Linked DNA regions of Homo sapiens: region 2 is linked to region 1. Evidence: fine-mapped expression QTL. Tissue or cell type: whole blood. Region 1 holds a variant in brackets; the other region holds the start of a gene. All regions are shown on one strand. Distances are from middle to middle.

Region 1 (8,181 bases):
GGAGTGCAGTGGCGCTATCTTGGCTCACTGCAAACTCCACCTCCTGGGTTCAAGTGATTCTCCTGCCTCAGCCTCCCAAGTAGCTGGGATTACAGGTGTGCACCACCATGCCCAGCTAATTTTTGTATTTTTAGTAGAGACAGGGCTTCTTCATGTTAGTCAGGCTGGTCTTGAACTCCTGACCTCATGTTCCGCCCGCCTCGGCCTCCCAAAGTGCTGGGATTACAGGCATGAGCCACCATGTCAGCCTAAGTAATGTACATGACCCGGTATACACAAAATCTATATAACTCAAGGAAAGATTAAACAAAAAAAAACCAGCATTTAATCCCAAAGCACTGATATTTTCTCTTCTATTCCATTTTTTTTAAAAAAATGCTTATTATTGATTATCCATCAAATTGATTTCACACCCCTCACAAGGGTCATGACTTATATATTGAAAAACATAGTCCAGCTCTCTTAAGTTAAAATGGAGAACTTGCTAGTAAATACATAGGTCGGGGCAAACACCACCAAAAAAGTTATGTACTCTAGTCCAGTCACCTTCAAACCGATTAGGTTAAGAGCCCTTTTTTTTTTTTTTTTTTTTTTTTAACCAGGAGAAATAACTTTATTTGGACTGAGAGCTGGAGAACAAGAATAGGACCTGAGATAGCATACTGGGCTAAGGAGGAGAGGTAAGGTTCCAAAATGGCAGTCAAAGCTCATCGACCAAACAGACTCTACTTCCCAGCAACCTTGCAGTTAGTGCAACCAACAAAAGGCCTGCTGGGGAATGTATTTTCCACTAAATTCCCCAAGTATGCCAACATTACAAAAAAGATAGAGGTTTTTCATCATAATTAAATTTCCACAATCCTCCCCAATCATGAGTATTATAAGCAGAAGTAAAAAATCACATTTTACAGATCTCAAACTTGTCTTCAACATTTAGTTCATCATCTTCAAAAAACAGCTCCCCTGCTAAACTCATTAGCTATATGATCTATCCAAGCAACAACAAGATGGCCAGGCCATGCCAATTCTCTTCCCATTTTCCCTAGCCACTCAGGGCTCAACAGCAGGGTGAAGCTCAGGCGGGGGTAGGGTGTGGGGAGCACAAGGGCTACTTTCCCCCAATACAACATGGCATCTGAAGCTTGATAGGAGAGCAGAACTGGTGAGACTTGAGGGAAGGACCCAGGGCCTGTATTCAGTCAGAATCACTGCTGGAAGAGGAGGAGGAATGCTTGCTATGCTTGTGCATCTTTTTATGAGCTTTCTTCATTTTCTTCTGTATCTTCTTGCCCACTATCACTGCTGGTCCAACCATGCCAGGAGCCAAGGGACTCACAGGAGGCATTCCAGGAGCAGACGGTGGGTATGGAGGAGGGTAGGGACCCGAGGATTGGCATCCTGGATACCCTGGCTGTGGCACAGGATGAGGGGGCCAACCTGGGGGGAAAGCTGAATTGCCTTGCGGAGCTCCTGGGGGAGGAGGACAGGGGCCTGGGGGAAAGGGTGGGTTGATAGGTGGTGAGTGGGCAGGATTGGAACCTCCAGGGCACCCAATGTTGGGTGGATATGGATTTGGCCCTGGCTGCCTGGCACTGGGATTCCACATGTTTAGGTGTGTCCTCCAGCCTTTCCACTGCTGCCTGGGCTTGATGCATTCTCAAGAGCTTCTTAACTAGTTTCACCTCCTGTCTGCTCTCTCATCTTCATCATGCAAAAATTAGACTTTCCGTGTTACCTCTGCCTTACTCAAGTAGTCAAAGTGGTCCACAGTCTACTAGGCTTAGCTCTGAGACTAGAGGCCAGAGTAATGGCAAGGAATCCACTAAATGTACCAAACATTGCAGATAGCATGTAAAACAGTTCAAACATACATATGATGATAACTACTTATTTGTCAAAGTTATATATGTGTCACTTAATAGAATACAAATTCATTTCCAAGTATCATGGAATTTACAGGAACATTCTGACACATCCTGAACAGGCCAACCTCATCGCCTACTACCACCCAACAGAAACCCTCTGCTCCTGACAAATTAATCTCCCTACCCACACACATAAAAGTTTCACACTAACCTTCAACCCTACTACTCTCTTTCTCCTAGCCTGGAATACCCTTCCCTTCTCTTTACTTATCCAAACCTTACTTATCTGGCAAAGCACAATGGCTCATGCCTGTAATTCCAGCATTTGGGGAGGCCAAGGCAGGAAGACGCTTGAGCCCAGGACTTCAAGACACCCTGGCCCCTTCTCTACAAAAAACAAATAATTAGCTGAGCATGGTGGCACACACCTGTAGTCAGCTATTTGAGGGGGCTGAGGTGGGAAGATCGCATGAGCCCAGGTAGCTGAGGCTGCAGCAAGCTATGATCATGCCACTGCACTCCAGCATAGGTGACACAGCGAGGCCTTGTCTCAAGTCACTAAAAACAGGCCTTACTTCATCATGAAGTGAAGGCACGCCTTCACATCTCTTCCCTGTCTTCCTATAGATTTGTGATCTATAGATGTCATGGGACAGCATCATAAGAATAATTGTAGGCCAGGCGTGGTGGCTCACGCCTGTAATCCCAGCACTTTGGGAGGCCGAGGCGGGCGGATCAACAGGTCAGGAGATCGAGACCATCCTGGCTAACAAGGTGAAACCCCATCTCTACTAAAAATACAAAAATTAGCCCGGCGTGGTGGTGGGCGCCTGTAGTCCCAGCTACTCGGGAGGCTGAGGCAGGAGAATGGCGTGAACCCAGGAGGCGGAGCTTGCAGTGAGCCAAGATTGCGCCACTGCACTCCAGCCTGGGTGACAGACCGAGACTCCGTCTCAAAAAAAAAAAAAAAAAAAAGAATAATTGTGTTGAATGTTTTGTTGTAATGATAAAATAAGATTAAAAAGTAAGAGCACTTTGGAAGTTTCAAGGTTTTATTTTTTGAATAGCTTTAGGTAAAAATCATGAATACAACTGGCTGCTACCTCAAATGAGATGTCAATTTTTAGGGATGCCCTATCTGGAACACTTTTTCAGGAAACCCAGACCTTGGAATATTGTCACCCTCAGTAGTAGAGTCTTCAAAACAATCTTTCTTTTATTCAGAGCTGATTTATACATTAACAACGATTCATTTCTCAGTTTTTGAAATTATATGAAGTCACCTGGATCCAGTGTATATAAGCTGGAAAAATACCCAAAAACATAAGGCTGACAGAGCCAAATTAGACTGTTGGAGACATTTTAAATTATTTGAAAATACATTAACATTTTCTACTACATACTCTTAGAAGTTCTCCTAGCCATCACTGGTGGTGGAACACACCTATGTGAGCTACAGACAAACTTGTTAGGATCACTTTAAGTTTATGAGCTTTAAAATCATTTAAAGAACGATTCCAGGCCAACACGGAATCAAAGTATTTAGTTTCTACGTACAGTTTTTTCCTTAAAACAATATTTAAAGCCGTGAGATTCTGCAATTATAGAGGCAGTAGGAATAAAGAGAAAACAAAAACCAAAAATAAAGCCGTGAGAAATGTCAGGATGATGTAGTGGGGAAATAAACTTTAGAATGAGTGACCTTAGCTGTAACTAAGTAATTGCTAATATTTATTTAGCCCCCACTTCATATCCAAGCATTGCTCTAAATCTTTTACGTGAATTATTTCGTTTAACCCACGCACCACCTATTAAGTAGATATTATTATTATCCCCATTTCACAGTTCAGACACTGAGCTTTTTTTGAAAGTTACCAAGTCCAAGGTTCCAAGTAAACAGTAGGGCAGGGACTCAAGCCCAGGTGTACTGCCACCTGGAAGTATTAAGTCCTCGCTCCTAACTACTACTTCACTGATCTGGCTTTATGACTTTATAAGTCATATACCCACACTGGGCCTCAGTTTCTTCATCTGTAAAAACAACGCAGCGAATGCCACAGTACAGCTCCTTCCAGCTCTGCCTAGCGTCGTTATCATCAACCTTACAATCTACCTGAGCGTCAACAAGCCAGTGTCATCCCTTCTTTTAAATGAATTCTACTCAAACAGCATTTACAACGCACCTACTCGGCGTCCGGCCTTGTGCTGCGCGAGCGCCCAAGCCCAACTCCCCCACGGTCTCTGCTCCCGCCGCGGCGCCAGCAGGCCCCCCTCTTTCCCCGCGACTCTCCGAGAATAGCGGGGGTCCTTTTCCCCACCCGACACACAGAAGCCTCGGGCCACCCCCAGCTCTGCTCCCCGGGCCCACTCACCCTTCTGGTGGTCTCTGCTGCCAGGCGCCGCGAGACCCCGCGTCCCCGCTGCCCCGTCCCCCACGGGGGTCGTGTGGTGAGCGCCCAACTGCGATCGTTCGGCGACTCTGCCTTTCGCCATGGCTGCTGCAAGGTGAAGGGAGCGGTGCGGTGCCGCGCCCCCTAAACAACAAAACTCTGTTGCAGGCTCCTTACTACGCCGAAGCGCCACGGCTAGAGCCACTTCCGGCGCGACCTCCTCACCCGAGACGACCTCAGCCCAGCGAGTACTGCAACCTCCTGCAAACACCCGCAGCGCCCACCACAGGCTAAACCCCGCCCCGTGCCGCCCCCGAGCCTCGCGTGCTCGCGCCGGCCCAGTAACCGCGAGACAAGTCAGGGTCCTGGACCGCCCCCTTCAGTGCCCCGCCCCGGCCCGCCCGCGGGAAAGAGGTGGCCGCCGGGCGCTGGGGCGAGAGCATGCGCAGTCGCGGCACTCGAGTCACCCGGCTGCGACTCGCTGGCCCTGGCGTCTAAAGCGTAGCCTTAATTACCCGGAAGTGCGGTCCCAGGGACTTCAAACCTTTTGTCCAGGCCGCCGGA[G/A]GTGCCTGTGATTAGTCGGCATTTCGCGGCTGAGGCTGATTCAGCCCATTACATCAATTCCGCAGCTGCTGTCTTCAATTTGGAGGCGCCAGAGAGTGCTTGATCTAAAAGATGGTGGGAAATACAAAGGTTGAGCAAAACCTACCTGAATTTCAGGAAACTAAGGCTCAGAGAGGGCTACGTACAACCTGTGAAGATCACAGGATGGCAAAAATGGGCTTAGAATCCAGGTTGTCCTGTTCCCAAAGCTAACGGTTTTGCATTAGCTGCTGCCCCTTACTACTAAACCCAAGTCAGCTCTACATTTAGCTTATCCCTAAGCTAAGCGGAAACATGCCTTTTCCACAGGTAACTTTTTCTGCTTCTACCCCTCAGAGCACATTCAGCTTACTCACCGTGGTTACCTCTTGAAAGCAACTTAGAGGCCGGTCGCGGTGGCTCAAGCCTGTAATCCCAACACTTTGGGAGGCCAAGGCGGGCGGATCATTTGAGACCAGGAGTGTGAGGCCAGACTGGCCAAAATGGTGAGATGAGACCCCGTCTCTGCTAAAAATACAAAAATGAGCTGGACATGATGGCTTGTAATCCCAGCTACTCGAGAGTGTGAGTCAGGAGAATCGCTTGAACCCCGGAGGCTGAGGTTGCGGTGAGAAATTGCACCGCTGCACTCCAGCATAGACCACAAAGCAAGACTCCGTCCCAAAAAAAAAAAAAAAAAATCCTGATTGTTTCTATTCAGTAATTACATTTGTAGGAAATTATTCCATGAAAATAAACATAAATAATTCCTCTGTATTAGTATAACAGTGAAAAACTAAAAGCAATATAAAAATCCAACACTAAATAAAAATGGTTAAGTAAATTATGGGAAACCCATTCAATTGAACTGTTTTATGTACACATCCTTTGCCTACTTCTGGCTCCCATTTTATTTCCTTCATAGTCATTAAAAGCAATTAATTCTGTGAACTATTTGTTTACTTGTTTATTGTCTGCCTCCACCTTTAGAATATAAGCTTTAAGGCAGGGGCTTTGTCTTTTTGTTTTTTGTTTTTTTAAGTGATGGGAATCTCACTATATTGTCCAGGCTGGATCTGAACTTCTGGACTCAAGGGATCCTCAAGCATCAGCCCTCTGAGTAGCTGGGACTACAGGCTCCATGCTATGGCTCCCAGCTGGGCTTTGTCTTTTTGATCACCATTGTATCCCCGGTAGCTGACAGAGTGCCAATACCTAAGTGGCCATTCAATGAATTTGTTGAATAATTTTTTTTTTTGAGATGGTGCCCAGCCGAATAAATTTTCAATCTTAGGAAATTATATTTATGGGCCAGGTGCCATGGCTTACACCTGTAATTTCAGCACTTTGGGAGACCAAGGTGGGCGGATCACCTTGAGGTCGGGAGTTCAAGTCAAAAAAAAAAAAAAGAAAACATTTTATATATTTTACTATGCAAACATTAAAAATTGAAGTACAACAAAAACTAAAAACAAACACTGAGAAGTATTTGACACATAAGAATTACTACAAATCAGTAAGGAAAGCACAACTCAACAGAAAAATGGGCAAAGAATATGAATTATCAACACACAGAAGAAAAAATTAAATGTGCTTAAGACATCTGAGTGCGCAGTGGGAAAGCCAACTCCAAAACTTAGGAAATTCCAAAAAATTAGGAAAAGATGAACAACCTCAGTGCAGTGTGATAAGAGTGACTGAGGGGTGCGCAGATTGCAATAGCAGAAGAGAGGAATATCTAAATTACAGTGGGGCTGTAAAGTCTCCCAGGAAGCAGGATTAAAACTGATTTTTAGAGGATGAATAGGAATTAACAAAGTTGAAAGCAGAGAAAATAGCTTTTGCAAAGGCTAGAAGCTACTGCTTATATTAGAAAAAAAGCTTCAAGCAAAGGGTGGGAGAATGGAAAGAAATGCTACGAAAGATATGAGACCAGGACCTTATCACAAACTGCTAAAAGTTTGAACTTAATCCTCAAAGATATTTAACCAGAGAGGGACTTAGTAAGATTTGTATTTTTGGCCGGGCACATTGGCTCACCCCTGTAATCCCAGCACTTTGGGAGGCTGAGATGGTTGGATCACCTGAGGTCAGGAGTTCAAGACCAGTTTGAAAACCCGTCTCTACTAAAAGTACAAAAAATTAGCTGGGTGTGGCCGGGTGTGGTGGCTCACGCCTGTAATCCCAGCACTTTGGGAGGCCGAGGTGGGCGGATCACGAGGTGGGGAGATCAAGACCATCCTGGCTAATATGGTGAAACCCCGTCTCTACTAAAAATACAAAGAATTATCCGGGCGTGGTGGCAGGCGCCTGTAATCCCAGCTACTCAGGAGGCTGAGGCAGGAGAATGGTGTGAACCCAGGAGGCAGAGCTTGCACTGAGCCGAGATCGCGACACTGCACTCCAGCCTGGGTGACAGAGCAGGACTCCATCTCAAAAAAAAAAAAAAAAAAAAAAAAAAAAAAAAAAAAGCTGGGCGTGGCAGCGGGCGCCTGTAATCCCAGCTACCCGGGAGGCTGAGGTAGGAGAATCGCTTGAACCAGGGAGGTAGAGGTTCCAGTGAGCTGGGATCGTGCCATTGCACTCCAGCCAGGGCAACAAGTGTGAAACTCCGTCTCAAAAAAAAGATTTGAATTTTCAAAGCTTATTCTGACCGCCTTATGGAAGTGTGCCAAATCAACAGCAGAAAGAGAAGTTAGGAGATTACTGCAATAATCCTGGCCTGACCTAGCATAGTGTACTGGAGACAAAAAGAAGATACCAGATATAAGATTATGTATGAGAAGAACTATCTCTAAACTTTTATTACTTTAATTACATGAATATATACATAGTCATTCCAGACAAAATTTTTTTTTTTTTTGAGATGGAGTTTCACTCTTATTGCCACGCTGGAGTGCAATGGCATGATCTTGGCTCGCGGAAACCTCCGCCTCCCAGTTCAAGCGATTTTCCTGCCTCAGCCTCCCAAGTAGCTGGGATTACAGACATGTGCTACCACGCCCGGCTAATTTTGTATTTTTAGTAGAGGGGGGTTTCTCCATGTTGATCAGGCTGGTCTCGAACTCCCGACCTCAGGTGATCTGCCCACCTCGGCCTCCCAGTGCTGGGATTACAGCCGTGAGCCACCACGCCCCAGCCTCCAGACAAATATTGAAAAAGCAAATTATCAGACAGAAAAACATTAAGTCCAGGCAGGGTGGGTCATGCCTGTGATCCCAGCACTTTCGGAGGCTGAGGAGGGCGGATTGATTGGGCTCAGGGGTTTGAGACCAGCCTAAGCAACATGGTGAAACCCTGTCTCTACAAACAATACAAAAAAGCCGGGCATGGTGGCAGGTGCC
Region 2 (8,181 bases), 48 kb before region 1:
CATCCCCCTTTCTTTATTATCCCAATAAACTTTCACAAGGATATAATTTTAGCTTGCCAAAAAGCCAGATAATTAACACATATCCATTAAGACAGTAACATTTCTTTTTTAATGAAATGTTGAAAGACAGTTTTTAAACATTTTTGAAGGTCTACTTGATGAGATTATTTTTATTTACATTCTTTTTTTATAGATGAGGACCCTGACAGGGTTATCTCTAACTTGCTCCCAATCACAAAGATAGTCAATAGGAGAGCAGGAATATTACCCTAAACTCATGCTCTCGCTAACAGTTAACTTCCCAGCTTCATTCTTATGCTCTATCATTCGCAAAACATTCTATCTTCTCAAACCAAGTGTTCATACAATTTGACACTCAAAAACACGCATAAAAAAAAGTTTATTCCACCACCTTAGTTTCTTTTACTGAGAAGAATTATGTTGTTTTTAATATTTCTCAACATGTTAGTGTTTTCTAAAGACCTCCAGCCAGGCCAATGAGATGCAGTTTAATGTCATGAGAAGAGCACTGGACCAAGCAATTAACTAGTGTATACAGGCCCCACTGTCCTTCCTGGGCCTCATTTTCCCCTCTGAGGTCCCTTCCAACACCAATACCCTGAACCGAATTCCAAAAATTACATCAAAGTCACAAACTTACTACATATGAAAAAGATGAAAAACATCTGTACTATAAGAATTTGAAGACCTTAAAAGATAAACTTGAACAATTATTAGGTACTCATCAAAATAATTTTTTTTTTTTGGACGGAGTCTCGCTCTGTCGCCCAGGCTAGAGTGCTGGAGTGCAGTGGCGCGATCTGGGCTCACTGCGAGCTCCGCCTCCCGGGTTCACGCCATTCTCCTGCCTCAGCCTCCTGAGTAGCTGGGACTACAGGCGCCCGCCACCACGCCCGGCTAATTTTTTGTATTTTTAGTAGAGACGGGGTTTCACCCTGTAAGCCCGGATGGTCTCGATCTCCTGACTTCGTGATCCGCCCGCCTCAGCCTCCCAAAGTGCTGGGATTACAGGCGTGAGCCACCGCGCCCGGCCTAAAACTAAAATTTTTTTAAAGTAAATTAGAAACCATAAAACTACCCCGACAAAAAGCCTAATATTAATTATATTACTGCTTCATATTTTCTCCACCTGCTATTGAGGAAATAGCTCATTTTTTTCTAACCTTGTTAAAGCATGAATTTATCATGCTTTTTTCTTCTTTTTCTTTTTTCCCAGACAGAGTCTCGCTTTATCACCCAGACTGGAGTGTAGTGGCGCAATCACCCAGACTGGCGCAATCTCAGCTCACTGCAACCTCCCCCTCCTGGGTTAAAGCGATCCTCCTACCTCAGCCTCCTGAGTAGCTGGGATTACAGGCACGCGCCACGACGCCCGGCTAATTTTTGTATTTTTAGTAGAGACGGGGGTTTCACCATGTTGGCCAAATTGGTCTCGAACTCCTGACCTCAGGTGACCCGCCCGCCTCGGCCTCCCAAAGTGCTGGGATTACCCCTGAGCCGCCGGGTGGTGGGCCACCGCGCCCCGCCTAATTTTTTTTTCATAAGAAACACTGGGCCGGGCGCGGTGGCTCACGCCTGTAATCCCAGCACTTTGGGAGGCCGAGGCGGGTGGATCATGAGGTCAGGAGATCGAGACCATCCTGGCTAACAAGGTGAAACCCCGTCTCTACTAAAAATACAAAAAATTAGCCGGGCGCGGTGGCGGGCGCCTGTAGTCCCAGCTACTCGGGAGGCTGAGGCAGGAGAATGGCGTGAACCCGGGAAGCGGAGCTTGCAGTGAGCCGAGATTGCGCCACTGCAGTCCGCAGTCCGGCCTGGGCGACAGAGCGAGACTCCGTCTCAAAAAAAAAAAAAAAAAAAAAAAGAAACACTGGACTTTTTCTGGTGCCCAAAAACAAAACTGTCTTGTCATCGTTGAAGCCGAGTAAGATTAGTCAACAGGATAATCACTTTCGAAAGAGAAACTTTACAGTGACAGAAAAGTGAAAAGGAGTCCCCCTCATCAGGATGACACAACCTTAAAGTACAACCCGACAAACCTCCACCCACTTGAAACCCACTAACTGGAAACTCCAGACAAAAACTTATTTTCAAAACTGTTACAATTCAAAGACTCCAATGACAGTGCAGTGGAAAATTCACGGGGACTGTATAATTTTCACGGCCTTCTGCAGTGAGTGCCAAATCTGGTCAGGGCCCCATCTTTGACTCCCCTCATCACTTTCCCTTTCAAATATGACTTGAAACGCATCAGAACACACCAAGCCTCTCCAACTACAATGCTGCTACCCTTTTATTCACAAACGCCTCTGTCCTCATAAAGGACATAAATTACTTTTCAAAAAAGGCATGGCCCCGGGATACAAGCCCTTTCCAAGGCTAAGGGAGTTCCTACTCTTCTTGGTGCCGCCCAAGTTCACTTTATTACTTCATATCCCATCCAGACGCGCAGAGCTGCAATCTGACTCAGGGGGCCCAGCCCAGGGCTGGGGTATAACGGTTTTGAGGAACTAGTATCACAAGCTTCTTGGGAAGTGGCCAGATAAACTCACCAAGTTTTTGTTTTCCTTTTTTTTAAGTCTGGGTGGAACTTACTTTCACTAGGACGTGGGACGCCTTCCCTCCCTAATGGGTGCCAGAGGACAAGCTTTCCTTTATTTTAAACGAAGTCACTCAACCTACACCAAACTGAGAACACACAACCCTCCCTCTTTCTGGTCGCCGAAGACGTGGCCACTGCGCAGCGGGCCGTAGGTTTGGACCCCTCATGGCTCAGAGCCCCTCATCCGTTTCCCCCCTCCAGTCCAAAGCCCCCTTCGCCCGCGCCCGCCCTGGTCCTCCCGGCCGACACTCGCCCGGCTCCCGGGACAAAGCGGGGCTGAAGGAAGGTTTCTTCTGGGGTCCCCGACGACAGCGGGCGCGGGAAAGCGCCCCGGGCTCGGCGCGCACTCACCCGACAGCTCGTCCGGCTCCAGCCCGGTCTCCGTGTCCAGTCCGCAGATGACAAAGTAGTCGGCGAAGCGACTGGGCGCCGAGCCCCCTCCGCCGCCGCCGCCACTCATGGCGCCGGGGCCGAGACCGGCCGGGCAGTGCGGAGCGGCACCGAGCCCCCGCAACCCGGGCGCCCGCCCGTCCGCCCTCAGGCCGCCCCTCCCGCCGCCGCCGCTACCGCGGCTCGGGCCGCCGCCCCCGGCCCTGGCCCGGTCCCCTCGGCCGCCGCGGCTGCCGTGACGGGGCGGGGGGGCACCGGGCCGCCCCGCACCGCATCCTGGATGCCTTCCCCTCCGCGCCGCCGCCGCTGCAGCTAGCCGAGAGCGCCGCGGCCCGAGCGAGCCTGGAGAAGGGCGGAGAGCGCGTGGACAGCCCCCACCGTGACCCTCCTCCTACCGCGCCTGCGCAGGCGCCGTCTGGGAGGGGGCGGGCTCCTGGGGGAAAGGATGACGTGATGCTCTTCGGACCCCGCCGGCCGCAGCTTCCCGGGAGGTCGCCGCAGCGCAGCCGGTGACTGCTTGGTCGCCCGCAACTGCCACTCCCCCGGGATTGAGACTCCTTTAGGGAGGGCTGAGGAGGTGCGAGAAGAGTGGGCGCAGCCTGCAGAGCCGGGCATTTGGCCCATGCTCTGCCCCCAACCACCCACCCAGCAAGCAGAGGTCCAGAGATCTTAGCGCGGCCTTGCCATGAGGATGGGGTCTCACGACTGAGCTCGGAAGCTCACCTAATCCTAGCTGCAGCGTGTCAGCCTAGACCCCAGACAGGGCCTTCTCCCTGTCCTCTCTTTTGGCAGGGGCGGATGAGCCGGTTTTATATTTACCCTTATTTTACAGACGGGGAAACTGAGTCTCAGAAAGAAGCAAGGACTTATCCAAGGTTACGCTGAGTCTAAGAGACATAAGCCTGGTCTGGAATCCTGGGCTTGTGGTCAGCTCCCCGTTCCTCGCCGCTCCCACCTCCCAGCCTGCCCTTTTCCCACGCTCTCTCCTTTTTTCTCTGGAAGCCTCCAGAGGCGCCTGCCATTTGGGAGCTCCTCTTCCTCTTCACTCTGTGAAAACTCTCAGATCCACCCCTAAACCTGTTTTCCTGTAAGAGGATAGGGAGGAGGCGAAGGGAAACTTACCTATTGGTCCTTGTCCTAGGACCCTCCGATTTCCTTTCCCATAGAAGCTAGGCAGATGTGTCTTTGTTGGAAACTGGAGATCAGAGGCCAGAAAGGCAACACAGGTATAGTGGTCACTAGCATGGGCTCTAGAAAAAAATGCTCGGATTTCAATCCTGACGATCATTTACTTTTGACCTTGAGCAAGTTAATCTCTAAGTGCCTGGCGTCATGGTTTTTGAGACAATTACATAAGGTAAATGCAAGTACAGGTAAAACAATGAGAATACTGCCTGGAACATGGAAATCACTCAGTAAATATTACAGATTTTTTTTTTCAAGACGGAGTTCTGTCTTGTTGCCCAGGCTGGAGTGCAATGGCGTAATCTCGGCTCACTGCACCTCTGCCTCCCAGGTTCAAGTGATTCTCCTGCCTCAGCCACCCAAGTAGCTAGGATTACAGGCGCGCACCACCACACTCGGCTAATTTTTTGTATTCAGTAGAGACAGGGATTCACCGTGTTGGTCAGGCTGGTCTCGAACTCCTGACCTCAGGTGATCCGCCCTCCTCTGCCTCCTAAAGTGCTGGGATTACAGGCATGAGCCAATGAGCCCCCAGCCTGGATTATTATTATTGTTCCAGAAGGAAGTACTCTTACGGTTTGTTCTGGGAGGCTGCCACTAAGAGCTGTAGAAGGCAGCTGGCTTCCCCAAAGGCTGAGCCTAGGCTCTCTCCTAGGTTCTCCTGGGTACTTCTCTCAAATATTGTTTCCCTTGGGGAGGTTTACCTAGAGGTTATAGCCATTGTCTCTCGGAGCCATAGCACCTGTTCCTCCCTGTATCTAACCTGCCTGAACTAGGGGGAGAAAAGTGGGGAGGAGAAGGTTGCTTCAAAACGCCCATTCATGGTGATGCTCCACCCGTATCCTGCATGCTGGGGACACAGAGACAGTAGAGGGGGATTAGTGAGTTAAACAGTCACAGAGGCTGGGCGTGGTGGCTCACACCTGTAATCCCAGAACTTGGGGAGGCCAAGGCTGGCGGATCGCTTAAGGTCAGAAGTTCAAGACCAGCCTGACCAATATGGTGAAATCCCATCTCTACCAAAAATATAAAATTAGCAGGGTGTGGTGGCAGGCAACTTTAGTCCCAGCTCCTCAGGAGGCTGAGGCAGGAGAATCGCTTCAACTCAAGAGGCAGAGGTTGCAGTAAGCCGAGATCGTGCCACTGCACTCTAGCCTGGGCAACAGAATGAGGCTCTACCTCTAAATAAATAAATAAATAAATAAATAAATATGCCAGGCGTGGTGGCTGACACCTGTAATCCCAGCACTTTAGGTGGCCAAGGCAGGCAGATCACGAGGTCAGGAGATCAAGACCATCCTGGCCAACATGGTGAAACCCCATCTGTACTAAAATTATAAAAATTAGCTGGGTATGGTGGTGCCTGTAATCCCAGCTACTCAGGAGGATAAGGCAGGAGAATTGCTTAAACTCGGGAGGTGGAGGTTGCAGTGAGCCAAGATGGCGCCACTGCACTCCAGCCTGGCAACAGAGACACCCTGAAAAAAAAAAAAGAAAAAAAGAAAGTTACAGAGCACAGAAGGAGGACATCTTTCCAGATTGGGGAATGGTCAGGGAAGGTTTCCAGAAGGAGGTATATACTCTGACCTGAGTTCCAGAGGATCAACAGGAAGTTTCTCAGGTAAAAAGGGGCAGGGAAAGATGTTTAACTCAGTATGTGTAACAACAGGGAGCAACAGATAAAAGGGTATGTTCAGGCATCAACAAGTAATTCATTAACATTAAGATGGGAGATGGAGAGTTTAAAGGGAATGAAACCAGGGCAGGGGAGGAAGAAGGAGAACAGAGGAAGGAGGCATGGATTCAAATACCAGGCTAAAGAATTTATCCTCGGCCAGGCGTCGTGGTTCACACTCACGCTGGTAATCCCAACACTTTGGGCAGCTGAGGCAGGAGGACTGCTTGAACCCAGGAGTTTGAGACCAGAGTGGAGAACATAATGTGACCCCTGTCATAAATAAATAAATAAATAGTATTTTTTAGAAATAATTTATCCTATAAGATATATGAGTTGAGGATGAGTGAGGTAAAGTAAAGGAATTCAAGCCAAGGAGTGATATCTGACCCAAATCTGAGAATGATCACTCTAGGGGTGATGTGGAAAAAGAAATTTGAGAAAGGAATAAACGTCCTCAACTGAAAAGTCCAGAAACTTTTTATCCAAGGTGTCCAGGGTGATCTGGTGCTAGACGACCTCTCATATTAACTCAACTCGTAAAACACAAGTTAAAAACGAATGCATAACTGTATTAATTTGCCCTGGGAAATGTAACTGCTCAGAAGCCCAGAATACTCAACTGTGAAGTGATCTCCTTCCCGGTAGGAAATAAGTTTGGCAGAGTGATTGCTTCTTAGAGAGTCAGAAAATATAGAAAGGGATGCTCTTAAGATTTTTTCTTTTTTTTTTTTTTTTTTTTTCTGAGAGAGTCTCGCTCTGTCACCCAGGCTAGAGTGCAGTGGCGCCATCTCGGCTCACTGCAACCTCCGCCTCCCAGGTTCAAACGATTCTCCTGCCTCAGCCTCCCAAGTAGCTGGGACTACAGGCGCGCGCACCATGCCTGGCTAATTTTTTTTTTTTTTTGTATTTTTGTTTGTTTGTTTTTTGAGATGAATTCTCGCTCTGTCGCCCAGGCTGGAGTGCAGTGGTGATCTCTGCTCACTGCAAGGTCCGCCTCCCAGGTTCACACCATTCTCAGCCTCAGCCTCCCGAGTATCAGGGACTACAGGTGCCCGCCACCTGTAGTGGCTAATTTTGTTGTATTTTTAATAGAGACGGGGTTTCGCCCTGTTAGCCAGGATGGTCTCAACCTCTTGACCTCGTGATCTGCCCGCCTCGGCCTCCCAAAGTGCTGAGATTACAGGCGTGAGCCACTGCGCCAAGCCAAGATTTAATGTTTTTTTGTTTGTTTGAGACAGAGCCTCGCTCTGTCACCCAGGCTGGAGAGCAGTGGCACAACCTCAGCTCACTGCAACCTCTGCCTCCCGAGTTCAAGCTATTTTCCTGCCTCAGCCTCCTGAGTAGCTGGAACTACAGGCCTGCGCCACCATGCCGGGCTAATTTTTTTTTTAGTAGAGACGGGGTTTCGCCATGTTGCCCAGGCTGGTCTCGAACTCCTGACCTCAGGTGATCTGCCCACCTTGACTTCCCAAAGTGCTGTGATTACAGGCGTGAAGATTTAATGTTTAAATCCACTCCCACTCTTACTAGCTGTGTAAGCTGGGGTACATCAGTTAAACACTCTGAAATGAGAAGAGTCATTCTGACCCCTCACAGAATTGCACTGAAGATTCATAAATTAATGGAAAAAGGAATTTTTAAAATCTGGGACATAATATACTTTTAATAAGTGGCAATCTGGGACACCCATTTTAGCATGAGGAACATGAGAGAGCAAGTGGACATCTGAGGGAACATAACTCCAGGAGAGGGTGTGCGGCAGAGTGTGCCTGGAGTGTTCATGGAGCAATAAGGAAGCCAGGGTGGCTGGAGAGGGTTAGGGTGGGGAGGATTGGTGGAAGATGGTAGAAGGTGTGGTGGAGTTGGCTTGCAATTCAAAAACATCAATTTTCCCTTCCATAGTGTGTGGACCCGCCTCCTCAGGGACACTGCCCAGCCCTACTTGCATCCAGATGTGGCCATGTGACTAGTTCTCAACAATGGAATGTGTGTAGGACTTTATGTATGTCACTGCTAGGTCAGGGCACTTAAGAAGCAGATTAGACTTCTCCCTTCTTTCTATTTTTGCCTTCTACCAGCTAGAATTAGAAGATTCTGAGGCTCTAAGTAATGGTAAAGCACATGGAGGAAAGGCTCCAGCTGACCAAGAATACCCACACCGGACTGTCCTGTGAACAAAAAATAAACTTCAGTTGTGTGAAGCCACTGGTACTGTGGGGTTTATTTGTTACAACAGCTAGTATTAACCATCACCAAAGTAGATGTTGGGTAAGAGGATAAATCATGGAGAGCCTTGTAGGCACAC

What was found. PIP is the estimated chance that this variant, and not a neighbour inherited with it, causes the effect.
Region 2: DENND5A starts here. The variant in region 1 is fine-mapped to the expression of DENND5A in whole blood (TOPMed, PIP 0.91).

Annotation. Positions count from the first base shown.
Region 1 is chr11:9,310,084-9,318,264 of GRCh38, forward strand. It overlaps TMEM41B (transmembrane protein 41B), which reads right to left and starts at 4,510. Exons shown (of 7, transcript NM_015012.4): 1 at 4,238-4,510. The coding sequence starts at 4,358. It also overlaps the pseudogene PRR13P2. RefSeq lists enhancers at 3,701-4,218, 4,219-4,734 and a silencer at 4,500-4,849. The variant G/A (reference allele first, on the strand shown) is at 4,820.
Region 2 is chr11:9,261,987-9,270,167 of GRCh38, forward strand. DENND5A (DENN domain containing 5A) reads right to left here and starts at 3,364. Exons shown (of 23, transcript NM_015213.4): 1 at 2,975-3,364. The coding sequence starts at 3,083. RefSeq lists enhancers at 1,896-2,235, 2,396-2,515, 3,596-3,665 and silencers at 2,806-3,165, 3,216-3,315.